Linked DNA regions of Homo sapiens. The protein of the gene in region 1 interacts with the protein of each later gene in a pairwise test. Each region holds a gene or a part of one and is shown on either strand. Other genes may lie near its edges.

The links. The genes of interacting proteins can lie anywhere in the genome.
Region 2: the proteins of TMEM19 (region 1) and SUSD6 interact in binary tests that used the Homo sapiens proteins (3 or more experiments, as listed by UniProt).

The regions. Positions count from the first base shown.
Region 1 is NC_000012.12:71,688,932-71,692,681, forward strand, and holds part of TMEM19 (transmembrane protein 19), read left to right. Parts: intron 1-659; coding exon 660-773; intron 774-3,750.
Region 2 is NC_000014.9:69,609,849-69,613,598, forward strand, and holds the start of SUSD6 (sushi domain-containing protein 6 precursor), read left to right. Parts: upstream 1-1,747; 5' UTR 1,748-1,980; intron 1,981-3,750. UniProt on the Homo sapiens protein: May play a role in growth-suppressive activity and cell death. May be involved in the production of chemokine molecules in umbilical vein endothelial cells (HUVECs) cultured in THP1 monocyte LPS-induced medium. Plays a role in preventing tumor onset.

The DNA of each region.
Region 1 (3,750 bases):
CGTTCTAGGTAGTCCTTGAAATTTAATACGTGCCCCCTTTAAAAAAAATGAACCAGAGGTTCATTTTAAATATCTAGATATCCATTATTATCATAAATAGCAGTAAAAGGTTTTCAAAACTTGGACATAACCTATTTGGCCATTCTCCAGTAAGACTGTTTCTCCGAAAATATGCATGCATGTCTCAACATAAATACAGTCATGCTCTGCCTAACAATGTTTTCGTCAATGACAGACCACACATACAACATGTTCCCATAAGATTATAATACCATATTTTTACTCTACTTTTTCTATGTTTAGATACACAAATACGTTATAATTGCCTGTAGTATTCAGTACAGTAACATGCTTTACAGGTTTGTAGCCTAGGACCAATAGGCTATAGCATATAGCTTAAGTGTGTAGTAGGCTCTACCATCTAGGTGTGTGTAAGTACAGTCTGACGTTTGCATAACCATGAAATCACCTAAGGATGCATTTCTCAGAACATATCCCTATCTTTAAGTGATGCATGACTATATATTTCTTTGGTGACTTCATCTTGGTGTTTGTACTTATGACAGTATTTTAGTCTAAAAGCAGTAACGGAAGTTTACTGCCAAAACTAACCTGTGCAAACTTCACACAATTTGTGCTCCACCTTTATAATTTTTCAGGTAACTTACGACCTATTTCTCCGTGGCGTTGGCTGTTTTCTGTTGTTGTTCCTGTTCTGATCGTCTCTAATGGCCTTAAAAAGAAAAGTCTAGATCACAGTGGGGCTCTAGGAGGTATGTTTTTATTTTGAATGTTTACAGTAACTACTAAGTGCTTGCTTATATAATTTAAATTTATGTTTTCTAAATTCTGAATATATGAGACTGACTACAAATCACAGTTATATATTTTAGACAATGATAAAGTTACATCTTGCTCAGCATTCCTATTGTCAAAATTTCAGAAACTAACGTACACTTTTAGTGTAACATACAAATTAAACTCTGTGATTGATACAAAGTAGATTAATAGGATAGATGAACCTTGACTATTCTGCTCCTTTAGTTTGATTAGTCTTCTACCAGCAGAAACACTGGAGCACTCCTCCTATATGTAAAATAGAGCATTTGGAGAGAATAACTTTTGGAAATTGCTGTTAGTAATCTCAAAACAGAGCAGTCCAAACTTAGTGTTCTGGATTAATTTTCCAAAACTGAGTTGAGAACAGGATATGCATTCATTCTTTTAGCAATTTTTTTTTTCCCGAGACAGTCTTGCTCTGTTGCCCAGGCTGGAGTGCAGTGGCATGATCGGCTCACTGCAACCTCCTCCTCCTGGATTCAAGCGATTCTTGTGCCTCAGCCTCTGAGTAGAGACTACAGGTGTGTGCCACCATGCCCAGCTAATTTTTTCTGGTATTTTTATTAGAGACAGGGTTTCGCCATGTTGACCAGGCCGGTCTCGAGCTCCTGGTCTCAAGTGATCACCTGCCTGGGCCTCCCAAAGTGCTGGGATTACAGGTATGAGCCACCATGCCTGACCCCTCTTTTAGCAAATTTTTATTGAACACTTACTGGTATGTACTACTGTTCTAAAAACTTGGGATAGATCTGTAAACAAAAAGAACGTGGTGTCAGTTCTCATGGAACTTATATTCTTTAGGGCAGATAGATAATAAATAAAATATATAAAACTGTTCAGGTAATGATGAAGTTTATGAGAAAAATGAAAAGATAATTGTAAAGTGTGTATGTTGGAAGATGTAGTGCATTCTTCTGTAAATGGTGTCAGGTGCTTTTCTCTACGGAGGTCATTTTGCACTGGTATCTGAAGAAGCTAGCAATGAGATCTGACAGAATCATGTTCCAGGCTGACAGAATAACAAGTGCAAAAGTCCAGATATTTTAGAGGCTTATTTGAGAGTAAGAATAATAGGGCTCATTTGACTAGAAAATAGTAACGATAGGAAAAGAAGTGAGAGATAAAATTGAATAAACTCTAGCAATGTGCTCTCGTGGTCCTATGGTTTTGTCAATTTTGCAAAGGTCAAAACTGTTGTACTCTTTTTCTTAAAGAGGGAACCCCAAATTATATAAACTTTGGGCTCCACAAGGCCTGGATCTCCCCCTTATTTCATTTTTAGGGCATAGAGAGAATTAAATGCGATAATTTAAAGTCCTTACCTCATTGCCTGGACACATAGCCAACATTTATTCAGTGCTTGTAACTATTATTATTAGGCAGAGTTCTTCAAAATCATGCCAATTCTCTTCATAATTAAGAAATACTGTTTAAGTTATATTGTGAGATTTCTTTTCCTTTTGTGGGGTAATTGAGAATTAAAGTTAACTAGACATACTGATATTTTTATATGAATTTTATTTTACCATATAATCAATAAGTATTAGGAGTGGTTATATTTTATCTATTTAACAAATGCTTATGTCACACTTTCTATGTACCAGGCACTGCTGTTAGCACTTTGGTAGTATTAAATCATTTATAACATAATTTGAACAATCTCTGCTTAAATATAATAACATGGACTTATGCTTTGCTAAAAAAAGTTCTTTCTGGGCTGGTCGCAGTGGCTCACACCTGTAATCCCAGCACTTTGGGAAGCCAAGGCAGAAGGATCACTCGAGTCCAGGAGTTTGAGACCAGCCTGGACAGCATAATGAGACTTCACCTCTACAAAAAAAAAAAAAAAAAAAAAAAAAAAAAAAAATTAGCCTGGCGTGGTAGTGCACACCTGTAGTCCCAACTACACAGGAGGCTGATCGTGCCACTTCAGTCAGCTTGGGCAACAGAGTGATACCCTGTGTCAAAAAGAAAAAAAAAAAAAGCTCTTAGATATCATTGCCTTGGAATTTATTATTCTTATAGAAAAAAAGGTCAAGTCCTTCTTGAAATTCTGTCTTCCTTGGGCTTCTGTGCTGTATATTGTCCTGCTTCTCTGACTTTTACGATCTCTACTGTTGTTTCTTTCCTGCTGCTAGAAGGGCTGCCTTGTAGCCCTTGGACATCTGCTCCTCTCCTATGTTGATTAGAATTAAAAGATATGAAACCTAACACTGCCACCTGTTACCAGTGCAAACTTGGGCATGCTGCCTAACTCCTAGGAGACTCACTTTCTTAATCTCTTATGAAATACCTCCAATAGTAATATCTTATGGACTTATTGGTAAATCTCAAACAAGATATTATATGAGGCAACACATCTTTGTAAACTATACAAAAATGTTCATTGTTAGTGATTATGTAGTTTCAACCATATTTTTATACGTGAATGACTATTAAATTGGCATTGCCACAAACATTTCTTTCTTTCTCCGTACCTCTGCTCACATTACTTCTCCCCCTCAACCTCTCTCCTACCTCATTATATATGCTGATTATTATTATTATCATCTGCATTAATAGAGAAGTATATAGAGAGGTTTGAAGGATGAAGAGACAGTTCTGGGCAGAAAACAATGAAAACTGCAGAAAACTGAAACTAACACTTGCAGAATAAAATTAAATGAAGTATTCTCACTTAAAAAGTTTCTGGTTCTAGGCTTCTTAGTGCTTAATGAAGTATTCTTATTGAATAGGATTCAAATCTCATGAAGTCATTTATTTGCTGCCAGCCCTTAGAGTTGGAAATGATCAAATGTAGTAGTAGATGGAAGCATGTCCTTAACTTACTTTCAGTAGTAACTGATAGTTCTAAAGTCAGGTAGCAAAAATATAATATGCATGTTTCTAAAAATTATCCTAGTGCTATAA
Region 2 (3,750 bases), on another chromosome or scaffold:
ACAGATCTGCATAGGGTCTCACAAGGGATTTTATAAGGTGGCAGTTCTTGTATGAAGTTACTGAGCCTCTTAATGGCCAAACTGACTTCAGTGCACAGCCAGGGGCTCAGTTACTTTGGCAGTTGATCTGACCTGAACCATCCATGCCTGCTTTCTTCCCTTTCCTTTCTTTCTTTTTCTCCTTCCTCCATTCATCTTCTCCAATTCTTCCTCCATCCCTTTCCCTTGCTTCCTTCCCCCTTGTCCCCTCCCTGAGCCTTGGGTCTGCCTGGCATGTTCCTGCTGCCCACACTGATTTGGTTGTGCTCTGAGGCAGACCCAGGTAGTTCTGAATTGTGCTTTTCAATCTTCTAGTGGTCTGGGCAGTGTGGCCCCAAATGAGCAGGAAGGGAGGGGTGCCCATCTTCTCTAATGAGTCTGGACCCAAGAAGGCAAGGAAGAAAGAAGGCAGAACAAGGATAGACTTATGAAAAAGGCATTATAGCAACGAGCCACAGGTTGCTGTGGGGCCCAGAAGGGAAGGGTTCTTTTGGGGATGGGTCTGTGTGCATGGGGAGGAGCATCCTGTTTATTTGGTTCAAGCTACTTCACAAGGACATGCCCTGTTAATTCACAGTGCTTTTCCCGAAAGCCTACTAGAACTAGGCCTGGTGAGAGGCCCTGAGAAGGTGTATCCTTTTGTCCAAGAGCATCTGGGAGAAGAGGCCTGCCTGACCCAAGCTGCAGCAAAGACACAAGTCTGTAGGTCCAGATGTGGACTCTACCACTGATTTACAAGTAGGAGTTCCTTAACACTTATGGAGGACCTCTGAGACCGACACGGTGCAAGGCCCTGGGGTACAAAGATAAAAAGCCAGAGTCCTCCCCATCAAGGCGCCACGGGCCCTGTAAACACATAAACCGAGGACACACTGCATGAGAGATCACCAATAAACGATGTAGCCATACAGTGCACAAACTGCTCACTCAGTATGTGCTAGAAAATAGCCCCAGAAGGCAAGGCTCAAGAGGGGAAATACAGTTAGGAATGTGGCAGGCTTCTAGCCCGGGCTCTGCCAGTCCTGGCTCTGAACTGCGGTTTTCTCAACCTTGAGATCCCTTGTGTGCTTTTAGTATGCTGAAGGATCACTCACTTCAGAATGCTAGTGAAAATACAGATTCCCAAGTCCGACCCCACTGAATCACAATGGCTGGAGGTCATTCGGGGCCCCGAATCTGCATTTTCACCCCCACCCACCCCCCGGGCAGCTTTAATGTTGGCAGGCTAGGAACCACAGTTCGGATTACTGCTTAACAGGGAGATAATAACCTGCTTCAGACGAGCTAGGTCAGACGAGCAATTCAAGAGCTAACAAGGCAACATGCGCCAAAAGCCTTGTAAACCTCAGGGCAGTACAATTCTTTGCAAATAATAGTAATTCAATCATGCAAATAATAATAATAGTAAACGAACTGGAGAGCGCACTGGAAACGCCGCATAGTCCAGCTGAGTCGGTGCCACCGCCCCATCCACTCCAGCGCAGAGGGACTGTCTCTTTAAGGACCCCCCACCTCCCCAACCGCGTCGCTTCTCCCTTGGGTACCTGGCCCGGCCGGCGGCGCGTGCGTGCAGGGCCTCCCGGCGGGGCGGTCGCGGCGGCGCGACGCCGGCGCCGTTGCGTGCGCGCCTGGCCCTGCCCCTTTCCCGCCCCTTCCCCGCCCCCTCCCCTCCGCGGGGCCTCCCCCGCCCGCGCGGTACAGCTGGGTCAGTGACGCGGGCGCTGCAGCCGTCGCTACCGCCGCGTTCTATTCTCCGAAGCCGGCGACCGCCCCACCTCCTCCCTCCCTCCCGCCCGCTTCCTCTGCCCACAGCGCCGGCCAGAGCGAGCTAGACAAGGGCACGCGGGGCCTCGCCTAGACCCGAGAAGACTGCGGGCGCGCGCAAGCGGCGGCGTGGAAGCTGTGAGCGCCCCCATCCCGGAGGTCTCCGCCGGCTCCCGGGTGAGTTGTCACCGCGGCCCGGGGGCGGCGGGGCCGGCATTGTGCCATCGACGCGCTCGGCCGGCTGTCAGGGGCGCGGGACCAGCGCGCACCGCCCAGGAGTGACGCTGGCCGGAGCCCGGGCCGGCTTCGGCGGCTCCCCGCGCTTCTCTGCGCCGGCCCGCTGTCACCCGGCCGCGAGCCGCGCCGCTGGGAGCCCCGCGCTGGCGTGGCGCGGCCAGCCGGCCAGCAGTGGGGGCTGCGCGGCCGGGGGGACCGGCGGCTGGTTTGCGGCCGGGAACTTGGTGACCCGCGGTCCGGGGCGCGCCGTCCCGCGTCGCTGCCCGGGCAGCACCGGAAGAGCCAGACGCCGTGCCGATGGGTGCAGAGGAGGTAGGCAGAGGCCCTCTGTGCCACTGTCATTACTGCCCTCAGCCCAGCAAAGCTGCGGGGCTTGCGCTGGGGCAGGGCTGGCTTAGAGAAGGTGGATTTCCTGAGGAAATCTCAGAGCCCGCCTGTGCGCACCGCGGCATTCGGGAGCCCCCGCGCCTCGGCTGCTCTTTAATCTCAAAAACTTCTCTTATTAACCAGGCTAAACTCCCCGAAACCAGCTATTTTCTTTCAAAAAGTAGGCACGTACATACAGACTTTCCTTTTTTCGCTTGGTTTTGAGACCCCAGCTATGAGTGTGGATCTGACTCTCCCTCATGGGAGTCGTGGCTGGGGAGCTGCTGAAGTGGAGAAAAGTTACCCTGGACGAATTTAGGAGCAGGAGGGGGAGGTGGTTATGGGGACAGCAAGACCCAGGAGCAAAGAGGCGTCAAAATAAAGTCTTGGGCTGGTTAAAGGGAAGTTGGCGTCTGGGCAAGGAGGCCTAAAGCTGTTGTTCCCACAGAATTTTCTTTCAGTGGCAGGCGACATGCTGGGCTTTGTTGCTCTCGCTAACTGGGCTCCTGTGTGCTCTTCCAGAGGTGCAGTAAGATTACTCAGTTCAATTAGGCCTAGGGATTTACTCCCTTTTTTGATCTACAGAGATGGGAAGTATGTCTTTCCTTCACAGTAGTTAATTCATTTCTTGCTGTTTTCGTTCCTCTGGTGTAAAAACATACATAGGAGTTACGCACACACACCTTTTCTGTTTTGGGAATTCCACACCCAAACTGTCACCATCTAGTGGAGGCTAGTAGAGACATGTGCTTGGCACTGACTTCTGAGTTCTCTGGGTTTTGTGTTTTTAGCTAGAAGCATATTCAACCAGAAATTAAAATTTTCCTGGAGTTGGGGGAGGTATGTCTACATCTCAGGAAAGAAGGTATTTAAGCAGCAATAATATGGAAAGGTTCTTGAGGACTTACTGAGTACCAACCTTTGTGCTAAGGGCTTTACTTTTTTGAACTCATTTAATAACAGACTTTTGATGTAGATATTATTATCCCCATTCTTCTAGTTGAGACCCAAACCAAACAAGTTAAATAACTCGCCCATGTCACATAGGTATCTCATGGTGGAGCCCACAGTCTGAACTACTAGATTATACTGCTAGTTTCTGGTTTGTTTACCTTTTGATAAAATTGAACCTGGAGTCTTTCTAAAACCTTCTGAAAGCACTGCTGCTTCAGGCTGTTTCTCAGATCATGAGCATTCTAAACTCTTTCTCCTGGGTACACACTTACGGTATGTTTGCATAAGATTCATTTGTTCATTCTTTCATTCAGTACTCCCAAGTAGTTATGTGATACCGAATGTATGCCAGGCACTGTGCTAGGTATTGCAGGTACTGCATTGAATAAG